2 separate regions of the Homo sapiens genome follow, and region 1 is linked to region 2. Evidence: fine-mapped expression QTL. A gene starts in region 2. The other region holds a variant in brackets. All regions are shown on one strand. Distances are between the middles of the regions. Region 1 overlaps OTUD3 (OTU deubiquitinase 3). Region 2 holds the start of OTUD3 (OTU deubiquitinase 3).

Region 1 (8,000 bases), 32 kb before region 2:
ATGATCTTAACAGTTGTATAACTGTCCGACGAAACAAACATTGAAACTTAGGAGCAAGATTCCAGCGCAGCCTGCTGTGACCCCTGCTACTCACCCACCCCCACCCACCAAAACCAAGCTGTCTTTTGGCCACAGACCAGCCTTTACTCTTTGCTTTCCCAGGGCTCGATAAATGTTTTGGGTTTTTTGTTTTGTTTTGTTTTTTTGAGACGGAGTCTCGCTCTGTCGCCCAGGATGGAGTGCAGTGGCACGATCTCGGCTCACTGCAAGCTCCGCCTCCCGGGTTCACGCCATTCTCCTGCCTCAGCCTCCCCAGTAGCTGGGACTACAGGCGCCCGCCAACATGCCTGGCTAATTTTTTGTATTTTTAGTAGAGACGGGGTTTCACCGTGTTAGTCAGGATGGTCTCGATCTCCTGACCTCGTGATCCGCCTACCTCGGCCTCCCAAAGTGCTGGGATTACAGGCGTGAGCCACCGCGCCTGGCCAATAAATGTTTGATGACGGGATCAAGGGGCCTGCTTAAATCCTGTTTGCCTATGTGTGCGTATCTAGAGAACCCTTGATACCCAGCAGCAGACTTGCAAAAGAGACTGAAAAAAAGGAAGGGAGAAGCCTGAACTTGAACTGGGAGGTTCCAGGTAGAGCGCTTTGTTCTGCCGCTTTAGCAGCAGTGGCTCTGCTTAGACCTTTGCTATTCAACGTGGTCCATGGGCAGGGGCAGCCGCAGAAGCAGCAGCAGGGATCCTGTTCAAAATGCAGAATCTTGGACCTGACCCCAGACCTGCTGAATCAGAATCTGTAAGTTAACAAGCCCCCCTGATGATTCGTGTGCACATTAAAATCTAAGTGCTGATAAATGGAGTCTCAGTCTCTGCATTTGTCAAATGGAAGTATGACATTTCCCCAGCAGGCTGGTTATGGCAAAGTTTGAGATAACATGCATGAAAATGTACAAATAATGGCTAGCACTGAAAAATCACTCGTGTTCTAGGAATGAATGAATGGATAGTCATTAACAATAGCTAACACTTGCTGTGCACTAGGCATTTGCCAGGCACTGTTGTAAGTGCTTTATGTGTGCTAATTCATTGGATGAGTAAAGTAGGCAACGGGACTGTGTCAAAGCTGGGGAGGGGACATTCTTACCTAAATGTTTCATAGTTTGCCTCTCCAATTTTGATGAGAGGATTTGGATTGGTTTTGCTTTTGTTCCTATTTAGCACCTAACAAAAGCTATGCATGAAGTGCAAAGGTAAAGACCTTCCTCAATTAGTGACCAGAAATCACAGTGGAATTCCCAAGTTCAATGAGGAGTCTGATTAGGATTTCCTGGACATGCATCTGCTTCACTGGGGTTCTTTGCAATGTCACCACCAGAGAACTGAATACTAAAGTTAATTCTTTCCTTCAATAAGTTTTATGCAAATTATGCTTCTGGTCTTTTCCTGGATGCTGGAGATAGACACGAATCAGACAGAGTCAACCAGCAGACAGAAAACAGCAATAATTCTACACTAGCAAGTAATGTGACACCCCTAACAAGAGAGTATCAGGACTAATGGTTCTTAAACCCTCCATCCTTCATCACATCTCCATCCTGTCCACTGATGCCAGCTTCATTTTCCCAGAGCCTGATTTTCATCATGTCACTCCTCTGCTCCTGAACCATCAGTGACTCCCCATTGTCCACCAGCCCCTGGTATTCCAGGCTTGGTGTCATCTGCTTTTCCAGCCTCTTATGCAGCAATATCTATTTACTAAGCTCCTCTGCTGTCCTGCCTTCATATCCTTGTGCAGTAGCTTCTCTCAACCTAAAAGCCTCCCTTGCCCACAGGCACATCACCACGCTAAAATCCATGGGCTTAAAGTGAATCCCAAATGTCGTCTCTTCCTTTATATTCAGAGACAGGGTCTCCCTCTTGCCCAGGTTGGACTGCAGTGGCACGATCATAGTTCACTGCAGCCTTAACCTCCTCGACTCAAGCAAGCCTCCCACCTTAGCCTCCCACGTAGCTGGGACAACAGGTGTGTGCCATCAATTCTGGCTAACTTACTTATTTTTGGTAGAGACCGGGTCTCGCTATGTTGCCAGGCTGGTCTCAAACTCCTGGCCTCAAGCAATCCTCCTGCCTCAGCCTCCCAAACTGTTGGGATTACAGGGATAAGCCACCCTGCCCAGTCCCAAATGTCACCTTTTCTATGATGCTGTTTCAATTGGAGCGGATTTCACCCTCCTTGAACTGCCAAGCTGTGTTTATACCTTTCCTAGAACTGCTTATCCCGTTATTTGGGTCCTTGCATGGTGGCGGCAGACTGCTCTGGGTTCAAATCCTGTCTCTGCTACTAAGCTGTGATCTTGGGACAATTATTTATTCCTGAATAGAACCATCAGCCTCACAGGGTGGTTTTCAAGTTCAAATGAGACCATGTATCCAAAGTGTCCGGGGCATGCTAGCTGCTCCATCTACGCTTGGCCACCTTCTGTATTTTTGCTCTCCAATTGCAAATGTCACACAGTAGATGCTAAACAGGTACCTGTTCAATTGAATTCTGCGCTAATGTCCCCCAAAGGCAGAGATAGATGGTGCAGCATTTTTCCAGGCAGGCGCTACCTGTAACATTGCCAGGTTAGAATGCACACACAGGCCAACTCCAGACACTAAAAAGCCGTCAGGCAGATCTTTGTTGTTTTGGGGTTTTGAGACAGGGTCTCACCCTGTCACCCAGGCTGGAGTGTTGTGGTGTGATAAAGCTCACTGCAGCCTAATACTCCTGAGCTCAAGTGATCCTCCTGCCTCAGCCTCCTGAGTAGGAGGGACTACAGACAGGCACCCAGCCCCAAACCCCAGTAATTTTGTGTGTGCATGCATAGAGACGGGATCTCGCTAGATTGACCAAACTGGTCTTGAACTCCTGAGTGTGAGCAAGCCTCCTGCCCCAGCCTCCCAAAGTGCAGGGATTACAGATGTCAGCCACTGCACCCAGGCCTGATCTTGAGAATCCATTCAGCAAGCACAGCACTACTCTTCCAGTAGTGAAAGGCACATGAGAGGTGTTTCAAGAAGTTCCCAGTCTTTCTCCAAACTGATTATACATCCATAATAAGCTCTGTCCTAAACACTGGAGCATACCCATCCCACTCCTAGGTTTTGCTTGCGCTGGCCATTCAGTCCAACATGTCTTCGCTCCCTATTTCTGTATCCTGTCTCCCCTTTCGTGCCTCGTCCAAATCTCACTTCCTCCACCAAGCCTTCCCGAATTCTCTGAACTCACAGCCCTCTCATCAGTACCTCCTTTATGGCATGTGCTCTCTCCTGGGTCAGTGACGTGTCCACTTTCATTCCCGGACTGGAGGCTTTTTGAAGGCAGGATCCATGACTGTTTCAATGCCCAGAAATAAGGACCCATACAGAGTAGAGGTTCACTAGATGTCAGATGGATTCTTGGATGTTTAGATGAATAAATTGAACAGAAACAATCCTCTGGGGATACCCAAGTCCTTCTACCATAGGGAGGTTCAGACAAGTTTCTCCAAGAAGATAGGAAATGTTTCCTTCTGCCAAGCCAGAATCTGTGAAGTGACAGGACTGGCCTCAAGCCTTTGCAACCAAGTTCTAAATCTCTGCATCTCAATGGTCTGAGAGTGCCCATTCCATCAGCAAAAACCATTCTGTCCAGCCAAAACCATATTGGAGCAGAGCTTTTTATGAACTGTGTCTCAAGACACACACTCTTGTTTCTGTGCATTGGAGGAAGGGAAAGGCCAGAAGCCTGGGGTGGTGACTCGCTGATGCAACTCT[A/G]AACACCCAGGTTTTCAGCCAGGCTTTCTCCAAGGTGACCATGAGCGGTTACCAAGAAGGGACAAAGGCACAGCCACTTGTCCCTACCTGGCTCAAGAACACTTCTCTGTCCTTAAAGACTCATCCTATCTCCCACACAGGATCTTACAGGTCACCTGGTCCAACGCTGCCCAAACAGGAAGCCCCTCTAATCCCTAGCAGCAGCCACCTGGCCCCAGCTGAATCCCTGGAATGGGATTAAGGAGGCCATGGAAGTTTTCCAGTGTGCGGGCAGCACCTGGATTGGGACATCACTTTGGACCATAGCAGATTTCCTGGAAGAATCTCAGGTTAAATGGGGTCTGGAATCTGGGCCTCACAGGCTCAGGAACCAGACAGTGTGTGTCTATCCAGAGATGATGGGTCTCTCAGTTGTGGACTGAAGAAGAATCACACAGAGAAGATCACTTGAGAGATTGTGGGAGAATCTGCTTGCAGAAGCTAGAATATTCTTGACTTTCATCCAGAAAACCATCTAGTCCTTTTTTGTGTCAAGGCAACAGGGAGCCAATTCAGAAGGCTGCTTGTTGAATACAAAATGAAGAATGGGAGAATGGGAGTCTCAAGGTCAAAATCATGACATGGTGAGGTCTGCCGAGCCAGAGCCCTTGTGTGGATGGGGCCCCTGCTGGACGCAATGAAGGACTCCCTTCGCTCTGGTTTCCTGTGGACCCTTCTAGGTGAGTTGTGCCCCCAGATGGTACTGTCTGTGCCTTGGCAGGGAGCCTCCTCCTTGAATGGGGTCAAACAATCTTGAGAGTTCTAGAGGAGCCCAAAGTGGCCGCTGACAGACAACTGCTACATATTTAAACAGTTTCAAACTTATCAAGAGATGCTCTCAGATATCAGGCAGAAATCTTAAGTGTGTAGTCCTTAAGAATGACCCTGCCATTGTGTTTGGTGGCTGCATTTAGCTGCACTAAAGCAAAAATCAGCTGTTCTAAGCTTAGTCAGATCCCAAAGTACTATTATACACCTAGAATACTCAATCCAGCACACGCAAACACGCAAAGCTTCCACACAAAGGTCTCCAAAAAGGACATTTCCCAGCACACTCAGCCTCCTTGCATTCACTCAAACGGTGGTCAGATACTGATAAAAACAACTTAAAACTTTGTTTTTAAACTAGAATTTATTGGTATACAAAACTCCATTTCATAGATAAAGTGGCACATCTTTGCAGCTTCTATTGCACCAAGTATCGAAGATTAAAAACACAAAAAAAGAAACATTTGGTTTTGAAAACACTGCAAATAGCCAAGTACAGTACTTTGGTAAATAAAAAATAAAATGGTTCAGATGAACACAATCCGTGGAAAGAAACAATCTAGGGGGAAGGAACTATGGACATCAGACAATGGTCACAATTCTCACCATCGAGCTCCATAGATAAGGCAAGACTTGCTAAGTCTATGGATCACGACCCCATGGAGGTCTTAAGTATCTCCAGACTGAAGCTAGAACAAGTATAGTGCAATTAGAAAGAGAGAAGGCCCCTCCTCCACGGATACATCCACCCCTCTGTAAAGGAGACTGACGCATGCCAACACTTCTACATGGGAAAGGGGAGCCCCCGGGTGTGACGTCTGACTCCTGGCCCTTTTCTTCTTTCCTCTGAGCTTAGTGCTGGTGGAGGCTCTGGAAGAGGCACTGGGGAGGCCAAGGGCCCTTCCTACTATGAAAAATGAACTGTAAGAGTGGGAAAATGTGTGAAGCCTCTTACCAGTACTGCTCGAGGGACCTGCCAGGGATCAAACCGCCAGCTGAGGTCTGTGGCTGAGCTCACATGATTGTCATGGATGGCTGGCAGCCTGCCGCAGGCTGACACGCCAAGGATGAGAGCCAGGCCACAGAGAGTCTGTCCGGCAATCGCCGCCAGCCGCAAGGACTGGCAGTGAGCAGCAGCAGCTCTGGATCACGGCTATGACCTGCTTAGAATAAATTCCCTATGCAAAAGTTCGTAGTTTTACAGAAATAGATTCTTTACACTGGTACCAGCCCCTTCTCAAGTAATTCTGCAAGGATGCTAAACATTTTCATGGAACCACAAAACAGTCCTAACGAGGACAGTAAAGAGAGGGACTCTACAAAGCAGCTGCTTCAAAGACATAGGTCAGAGCCTGAGGTTTTAAAGGAATTTCACCTTGGGAGAGAACTTCCAGGCCAACCACAAGGCACCGCTCTTTCCGGAGGTCCCCATCAGCGGTGTGCGGTAAGCTCTGCATCCTAAGTGCACGTGGTGACTGGTGCTCCGTGTTCTCTCCACGTTACAAATATGACTGTCCCCTTTCTAATATGCGATGGCAGACGTCGTAATTTATGCCATCTAGATCTTCAAATCAATGATGTCATTAAAAAAATACAATTTACTGGCCGGGCAGGGTTGCTCACACCCGTAATCCTAGCACTTTGGGAGGCTGAGGCGGGCAGATCACAAGGTCAGGAGTTTGAGACCAGCCTGGCTAACATGGTGAAACCCCGTCTCTACTAAAAATACAAAAATTAGCCAAGCATGGTGGCACACACCTGTAATCCCAGCTACTCAGGAGGCTGAGGCAGGAGAATCGCTTGAACCCGGGAGGTGGAGGTTGCAGTGAGCCGAGATTGCCCCACCACACTCCAGCCTGGGCAACAAAGCAAGACTCTGTCTCAAAAAAAAAAAAAAAAAAATTTACTTTAGAGCCAGGAAAACATAACTTATAAAAAGTCCATTATTAAATCACCTCAGAACAACTGTCAAAGGCCCCGGAGTTTTAGCAACACTTGTTCTGAAAGCTGTGAATAATGAGAATGGCAAAACAGAAAAACGGCATCAGACTGAGTCTAAAGATTTAACATGGCTAGACAGAGCCTTGAGGTAAGAAAGTGAAGAGCTACGCATCTACCCAAAACGGGAGTCGAAGAGGGCCACTGACGCAACACATTAAAATCAGGAAGCTCCATTCTCTTCCCCCCGCAGAGATCCTTTTGGTCAGGGTAACTTTTAGTCACCTCTGACTAGGAATCCAAGTTTCCTTCAACTGACTGAATATTTCACAGAGGTAAACTGATAGCATTCTATGCTGACCCAGTAAAACCCAGGCAGAGTCTACAGAGTTTCTCAGAATTAGAGAAATTGCACATTGACTACAGGGACTCACTACTAGTACAGTTCAGCGCTGAAGTCCACCTGATGCTACCTGTGTAATATGTGAGCAACTCCCCGACTGAAGGTGGCCCTCCTCCCACCCCACCCCCGACAATCACATCATTTCACACTGAAGCAGCTCCCTGGGGGAAGCAGGGCAGGCATAATAAATTACCCATGGAGAGGCTCCCTCCCAGCCAGCTCCAGCTGCTCCACAAGGGAGATCCCACTTCCCAAGCCCTCAGAATCAAACTGGCATTGGAAGTGTTTTCAGAGCTTAATAAAGAAACTACAGACAACTTCGACTAACATTTAAAATTCTTTCTGCCACAATTTCTCAACCATACTTTGCTCCTGAAAGTGTATGTTCATTATTATTGAAAAACTAAATACACACATACATTCTAACTTTCTAATATCTCCTAGTGGCAACTACATTATCTAGAAGTTATGGTTCTATGCTGCTTTAATACATCTACCTCTCTAGTTCAAAGCTGTTGCCACTAAAATGGTATTTATTTTGACCTCTAAAAAAAAATATTTTCAAAATCCGTAAAACCTTTATATACCGTTTATAAGAGCAGTAAGCAGCTATGCACCACTGCTCCATCCCCTTTCTCCTGACCACACTACAAGCTACCAAGACAATCTCATGTAACATAAATCTCTGCCAGCCAAGATGTAACACAGAGGTTAAGACACATTCAGTTCCTAATAAAGAGTTCACAGGAGCACCTGTACTAGAGTAACAGCTGCTGACAACAGTCATCCCAGGACTAGACATACTGGGCCTCCACTCGGGCTGCCAGTGAAGGAATTTTCAAGTGCCCACTGAGGCAACTAAGCATGTTGATTCCAACCTTCTCATGTACCCAGTGAGACTGAGGCAGTGAAGTCTAAATTGAAACCATTAGCTAGAAGGTATCACTGAAGTTGGATGCATGTACCCGATTCCTAATAATTAACACACTAAACAGACCAACTGTAACTGAAAAGCTGTGAAACCAGTAGTAAAATTACTAAAGCCGTTTG
Region 2 (8,000 bases):
TGGTGAAACCCCATCTCTACTAAAAATACAAACAAATTAGCTGGCTGTGGTAGCAGGTGCCTGTAATCCCAGCTACTCAGGAGGCTGAGGCAAGAGAATTGTTTGAACCCAGGAGGCAGAGATTGCAGTGAGCCAAGATTGTGCCACTGCACTCCAGCCTGGGTGGCAGAGTAAGACTCCGTCTGAGGGGGGTAGAAGAATCTGTTGACACCTGCCAACCCATCACATACACAGGAAACACCATCCCCTGCAGTGATAAAGTCTGTCATCACCACATTCGAAAGGACTAGGATACTGACGAGGGCTGAACCACAGTCCAGCTAATGGAACTCATGTGAAGAACTTGTGAACAGAAGGTGGTTAGCTCCATGAAGCCCACACAAGAGGAAATACGATCATTTTATCTAACACTGTCCGAATAACAGGAACCTTGGAAGAGAGACATGAGCACTCCAGTCAAGCTGGTTTCTGGAGCCTAGCTTCACTGCCCGTTACTTCTACCCTTGTGCCCTACACTACCCGTCACCCTAAACAACCTGTAGATCTCCCAAAAACATCGTGTCCTTGTGCCTCTATATATACTCCTTCTCAGATGGGACCGTTCTCTTGGTGTACTCCTATTGGTCCTTCATGACCCAATCAGAGCATGACACCCTCTGAGAGGCATCTAGCAGTGTATCCAATGAGTATTTACCGAATGAACGAGAAGGACTTCCTGGCCAATTCATAGAGTAGTAGCCTTTTCCTTCTCAATAGTACCATTATAATCAGTCACTGTTACTAAAAATATATCAAACTATATTTTAATTATTTGTATCATCTGTTCTCAAAGTGTGACTCAAGGGACCGGAGATGTGGGAAGGTCTCTGATATGCTTTCAGGGTATCCGTGAGTTCAAAACTAAGATGTAATGTACCTTTTTCATTCTCATTCTCTCACAAGTGCAGTGGAGTTTTCCAGAGGCTACCTGATGCATGAAGTCATCACTCTGATAGCTAATGGAATGTGTGTGTATTCTTGTGTTTTAACTTTGTTTTACTTTCTAATACAGTAAATACTCATAGCTATAACCCATATAAAGTTCTTTCGGTTTCTCAGTAATTTTTAAGAATGCCAAGAGATCTTAAGACCAAAAAAGCTGAGACCCACTGTTACGTGTTTCTACCTTAGGCTATGAAGTCCTTAAGTATCTTAGTCATCAACATATTCCCAGCACCCTACTTAAGGTGTGCTGAATTAACTTGAAAAGTATGCTGTGTGTGTATGGGGGTGTGGGGATAGGGAGCAGAAGTAGTACCCCCAAAGTTTCCCATAACCTTATGAAAGCCCCCTCAAGAGTTTACAACTCCCTGTGCTAATTCCTCCTCATAAGTAACCTTCTATTGAGTACTTCAGTTTCCTGGGCACCCTGACATTGAGAATACCATACCCAGTATAGCAGACACAAGCAATCCAATCATTTGCAAGGAAAAGCCCCAATGTCCCACGCCAATTCCACTGTATTCAATTGGTATTTCTGTTTCTATAAGGGTGTCTTGGGCTTATGCTTAGGCTAGCTGACCTCCCTCTATTATTTTTATATTTCATTCAGCAAAAACGTACTGACTGCCTTCCATGTACCAAGCACTTTGCCAGATGATGGTGAATAAATGTAATCAAGTTCCAACTGCATCTTAAGCAAAAACAGCAACGCAGCAAAGTGTGGTGAACTCTTTGTGAGCAAAAAGAAATCCAATCTGCCTGAAGCAATGAGCATAAACAGGAACGGTGGGAAAGGGAAATTAGGACCAGTTCACAGTCTTAATCAATAAGCTGCAATGTAATGTGAAAATTTTTAAAACACCTTATTCTGCAGTTAATATCTAAGGCAATTCCTGGCCGGGGGTGGTAGCTCATGCCTGTAATCTAGGCACTTTGGGAGGCCGAGGCAGGAGGATCGCTTGAAGCCAGGAGTTCGAGACCAGCCTGGGCAACACAGCAAAATCACCGTCTCTACAAAATAACAATAATAATGAACTAAGGCAATTCCTTATGGTCTTTAATTTCATTTTAGTCTTCCCTCTGCAGGATCTGAGCACTCAAATACGGGGAGGAAAAAAACAAAAGCCAGGCTGTTATTAACACTCTCTCTTCCAAAGTGACACAGCTGACAACCAGACCCCTTTTTACCTGCCCCTGCAATGGGGATCCTAACTGTTCTCCCCTCTTCCTGACCCTTTTCCTTCTTCCATCCATGTTCCTGGAGCCATATCCCCTTTCTTGAAGCTAATTTTCTTCCTCCTCCCCACTCTCCCCCTCCGCGTTCCCTAAAGAAAGCTGGACCTGGATCCAGTCTAAGTCCCAAGAAAGCTTGGGGAAGCACCTTTGCTTACAGAGAAACTGAGGCCCATGGAAGGAAGAATTAGAGAAGCTGCCTTCAGCTCAGTAAACAGGCGACCTAATTTCACAAATGTAAATGGGGGCACCACCCAAAAACCAAGGACTCAAAGGAGGCAAAGCGTTCTACCAAGTGGGGCTTACTCAAACTCCTTCAACTGGTCTTATCGTCATGATAACTGTTTTTCCAATGCCTGGCTCCATCTCATTCCTTCAGAACTCAGCTTAAATGTCACCTTTGAGAGAGCCCTTCCTGGCCACAATCCAGTGGCCCTGCTCCCATATACGGTCTCAGCACCCACTTTCTATTTCGCTCGCGGCGTCTGCCATGATTAGGACCCTTTGGGATCCCCGCGAGCGTCTCGGGGCGAGGGGCTTGTCCGCCTCACTCGCAGCTGGACGCCCTGCACTCGGAGCGTGGCTGGCTCGCGGGAGGCGCCCGGGCCGCCCGAATGAATGGATGGATGGACGCGAGCGGGCAACGGTCGCCAGGCCGAGCCCGGCGCGTCCCCCGGCGCCGCCTCCCTCGCTCCCGGCCCGCCTCACCCGTCCCCCGGCACCTCCCGCAGCTTCAGCCCCAGGGCCTGCAGCTGGTTGGCGAAGCTGACGAACTCCTCCTCGCAGCCGCCGCCGCCGCCAGACTCCGGCCGATTCCGCCGCTCCTTGGCCAGGGCCCGGCGCGCCGCCCGCTCGTCCCGCTTGCGCTCGGCCTCGGCTTTCCGGCTGCCGCTGCCCGGCCGGCTCTTCGCCGCCTGCTTTCGGGACATGGCCTTAGCCTGCAGTCCCCAGCGGCAGGAGGGAAAGGCGCAGGACCCCCCAGCGTCCGCCTCAAGCGTTGGGAAGGTAAAACAGCGCGGGCAACGGAGCCCGGCGACGACTACGCAGCAACCGCGCCTGCGCCGGCGCCCAGCACCCCGGTCACATGATGGAATCCCCGCCTCTTTTGCGGGGCTCGGCGAGCAGACGCCATAGAGAGCTGGAGGGGCACCCATCTTGGTTTGTTCTATTCCGCCCTCTAGTGGTGGATGGTACTCAACGTGAGTGGCAGGAGCGACCGGAGAGGGACCAGAGAGAACAAAGCAGGAACAAGTCAAGCAGAGAAATTAAAGATGATAGAAGAGTGGAACACAGAGCAGCGGCAAAAGTTAGGACCGGAGATGAATAAAAACGATTTAAACTCTTGCTGCGAGCCTACTACAGTTGGATAGGCACTTTCACACGGCTCATTCTTGTTTAATTATCCCCAAATTACAGGAAACTGAATCTGAGTGGTTAAATAATTTCAAGATCACACAGCTAAAAGGCAGAGCTTTGCCCTGGCTCCAAAGCCCGCATACTTGTTTATTTAATCCTGCCCTTCATCTCTCCGCCTTCCTTCGTAACTCAAGGGAGAGGTCGCCCTTCTGTCCAAGACCACTGGAAATCCTAATTCCATCCTAGAGCGACCCACCTAGGTTTGCCTGGACTAGAGGTTTTCTTGGGATGCAGGACTTTCCGTTTTAAAACTGAGACAGACCAGGCTGGGCGTGATGGCTCACACCTGTAATCCCAGCACTTTGGGAGGCCGAGGCGGGCTGACCACAAAGTCAGGAGATGGAGACCATCCTGGCTAACACTGTGAAACCCCGTCTCTACTAAAAATACAAAAATTAGCCGGGCGTGGTGGCGGGCGCCTGTAGTCCCAGCTACTCGGGAGGCTGAGGCAGGAGAATGGCATGAACCCGGGAAGCGGAGCTTGCAGTGAGCCGAGATTGCACCACTGCACTCCAGCCTGGGGGACAGAGCGAGACTCCATCTCAAAAAACAAACAAACAAAAAAACAAAAACAAAAACTGAGGCCAGGTGCAGTGGCCCACGCCTGTAATCCCAACACTTTGGGAAGCCGAGGCCAGGGGATCGCCTGAGGTCAGGAGTTCGAGACCAGCCTGGCCAGCTGGCCAAGATGGTGAAACCCCATCTATATTGCGTGAGGCTGAGGTTTGGAGTACAAATGAATCTGTCACCCAGGTAGTGAGCAAAGTACACAATACACAATAGGTAGTTTTTCAACCCTTTCCCCCAACTGCCTCCCGACTCTTGTATTCCCCAGAGTCTATTGTTCCCATCTTTGTGTCCATGTGTATCCAATGTTTAGCTCCCACTTATAAGAACGTGCAGTATTTGGTTTTCTGTTTCTGCCTTAGTTCACTTAGGATAATGGTTTCCAGCTGTATCCATGTTGCTGTTCTCCCCTCTTCCTGGACATGATTTTGTTCTTTTTTATGGCTGCATAGTATTCCATGGTGTATATATACCACATTTTCTTTATCTAATCCACTGTTGATGCGTACCTGGGTTGATTCTATGTCTTTGCTATTGTGAATAGTGCTGCAGTGAACATACGGGTGCATCTGTCTTTTTGATAGAACGATATATATTCCTTTGAGTATAGACCCAGTAATGAGATTGCTGGGTCGAGTGGTAGTTCAATTTTTAGTTCTTTGAGAAATCTCCAAACTGCTCTCCACAGTGGCTGAACTAATTTACATTCCCACCAACAGTGTAAAAATGTTCCCCTTTTCCCCACAGCCTCAGCAACATCTGCTATTTTTTCTTTTTAACAAAAGCCATTCTAACTGGCATGAGATGGTATTTCATCGTGATTTTGATTTGCATTTTTCTGATGACAATAAGAATGCAAAAGAGAGTTGTAAAGATTAAATAAAAATGTAAAGCCCCAGGCATGAAGTAAGTACCTATTTAATGAAGTTGTTTGAATCAGTTCTCTGGAAATCTCATGAGCTCAGGGGCAAAGACTTTCAAACTTTAGAAACCAGGGAAGAAAGGTTTCTCACCAGCAAATAAGTAAATACAGACTGCTAACATATTGATAGAAAAGCGAACACTTGCCCGTCTTGTAAAAATCTTTTTGGCTGGGCGTGTGGCTCACGCTTGTAATCCCAACACTTTGGGAGGTGGAGGCGGGCGGATCACCTGAGGTGAGGAGTTCGAGGCCAGCCTGTAATCCCAGCTACTGGGGAGGCTGAGGCAGGAGAATCGCTTGAACCCGGGAGGCAAAGGTTGCAGTGAGCCGAGATTGCGCCATTGCACTCCAGTCTGGGCAACAAGAGTGAAACTCCTTCTCAAAACAAAAACAAAAACACAAACAAAAAATCTTTTCTGGCATAAGCCCTTAGCCTTTAGCCCACACACAGATTTTGAATGGGCGAATTTCTCTTCTCAGCGGAGACCTGTGTTAGACAGTGTCTCTAAGTGCAAATCAATGCTGCCTATAAATTATATTTAAAGGCCAAAGGGAAGGAGTATAGTACTTGTAAATAAAATGAATGCTCTGCCCACTTCGCTAGAGTTAATTAAAAGAATCATTGACCCGCACAGTGGCTCATGCCTGTAATCCCAGGACTTTGGGAGGCCAAAGTGGGGGTATTGCTTGAGCCCAGGAGTTCAAGATCTGCCTGGGCAACAAAGTGAGATTCCCCATCTCTGCAAAAAAATTTTAATTAGCTGGGCATGGTGATGCATGCCTGTAGTCCCAGCTATTCGGGAGGGGCTGAAGTTGGAGGATCACTTGAACCTGGGAGTTTGAGGCTGCAGTGAGGTATGACTGTGCCACTGCACTCCAGCCTAGGTGACAGAGCAAGACCCTGTCTCAAAAATAATAATAATAGTAATCAAACCTCATTGGATGGCAGTATAAATTAGTAAAAAGTGTGACTAACAGAATTTTAGTGAAGAAATGCAGCTTTAGGACTTTCAAGAACATACCATCAAGGGTATGGGAAAATGAGAACTCTCGCACACTGCTGTTGGGAGGTAAATTTATCTAGCCACTTTGGAGGGCAATTTGGACTGTATCTGGTAACTTTGGGGTTTTTTTTGTTTTTTTGTTTGTTTGTTTGTTTTGAGATGGAGTCTTGTTCTGTTGCCCAGGCTGGAGTGCCGTGGTATGATCTCGGCTTACTGCAACCTCTGCCTCCCGGGCTGAAGAGATTGTCAGAGATTCTCCTGCTTCAGCCTCCAGAGCAGCTGGGAATACAGGCACACACCACCATGCCCAGCTAATTTTTTTTTTTTTTTTTTTGTATTTTTAGTAGAGGCGAGGTTTCACCATGTTGGCCAGTCTGGTCTCGAACTCCTGATCTCAGGTGATCCGCGTGCCTCAGCCTCTTACTGTGCTGGGATTAGAGGCATGAACCACTGCACCTGGCCTGTATCTGGTAACATTTTAAATGTCTAGTGTCTACATCTCGTGATCTATCCTAAAAATAGAAATATTACATCTCCTCCTAAACTCCTCGTGTGTATCCGTATTCTAAATTTTCCTCGTGCAAGACGATGAACCCCAGGGTATATACTCCGGACAATGTAGCTCCTTCAAAAGTACACTCTCAGACGCAGATAGTCCTAAAGCAAATTACATGCACGTGCACTAGAAGGTATGTCCAAGTGTTGGCAGTTGGCCCGTTCAGGTTCTTGACTTAGCCACGTAAAAGAATTTGAGAGTGAGTCCAAAGTACTCCAAAGAGCAGGCAAAGAAGTTTATTGCAAAGCAAAAGTGATACAGGAGTTAAGAAGAAATCGCGTAGGCAGATAGTAAGGGCATGGGAGTCCTCGGTAAGGCTTTTCTTTTTAATGAAAAGCAGCCCCAAATCATCTTCTAACAGAGTAGCCTGTAAAGTGGAGCTGCAGACACAAACAAGCTGGGAGCTTGCACGGGTAAATGCCACAGGGAACTACCGACTAGACATGTTCAAGATGGCGGCTTCATCGCCTCTTCTCTGCCAGCCACGTGTACAGTAAGGAGCAGACAAGATAGCCTGCCAAGGATAATTTATTTGCATAATAAGATTAGGGTGGGGAACCAGCCTTCCCTGCTATGTAAATGTCACACCTGATTGAACCAATCTGTGAGCCCTATGTAAATCAGACACCGCCTCCTCAAGCTAGACTATAAAATCCAGTGCATCACTACCAACAGTTCTTTTCCACTCGGAGACACCTCTCTCTCCTGAAAGAGCTGTTGCTCTTTCTCTTCTCTTCTGCCTATTAAACCTCAGCTCCTAAACTCCTCGTGTGTGTCCGTGAGCTAAATTTTCCTGGTGCGAGATGACGAACCCCAGGGTATATACCCCAGACAGTGTAGCTGCTTCAAAAGTACACTCTGAGAGGCAAAGCAGGCTGCTAAAAGGGAGAGGCAGCCCCTAGTACCTTACGGGGAATTCCCTTTATGGGAGCTGTACATGCATATTCATGAAATACTGCTGAGGTCAAACATGCAAAGACAGACCTGCAGTTGGCACATGCGCTTAGCATCGACGTGCTCTAACACGCATAACGTGTATCCTTAGCATATAAAACCACCTAGGGGTGTGTTTTTTACTTTTTTGTTTTTTTGAGACAGGGTCTTGCTCTGTCTCCTAAACAGGTGTGCAGTGGCGCCATCACGGCCCACTGCAACCTCCACCCCCCCAGGCTCAAGCCATCCTCCTGCTTCAGCCTCCCTAGTAGCTGGGACTACAGGCGCAAGCCACCACGGCCCGCTAATTTTCTGTTTAATTTTTATAGAGACGAGGTCTTACTATGTTGCCCAGGCTGCTCCCGCCTCAGCTTCCCAATGTGCTCAG

What was found.
Region 1: its variant is fine-mapped to the expression of OTUD3 in whole blood (TOPMed, PIP 0.98).

Annotation. Positions count from the first base shown.
Region 1 is chr1:19,909,900-19,917,899 of GRCh38, reverse strand. It overlaps OTUD3 (OTU deubiquitinase 3), which reads right to left. Exons shown (of 8, transcript NM_015207.2): 8 at 4,955-8,000. Among named protein-coding and RNA genes, the nearest start is that of PLA2G2E, 9.7 kb to the left of the region's middle. The variant A/G (reference allele first, on the strand shown) is at 3,803.
Region 2 is chr1:19,877,657-19,885,656 of GRCh38, reverse strand. OTUD3 (OTU deubiquitinase 3) reads right to left here and starts at 3,262. Exons shown (of 8, transcript NM_015207.2): 1 at 2,923-3,262. The coding sequence starts at 3,143. The region is part of intron 1 of LOC105376823 (a long non-coding RNA gene); the gene reads left to right. RefSeq lists a silencer at 2,719-3,058 and an enhancer at 3,429-3,478.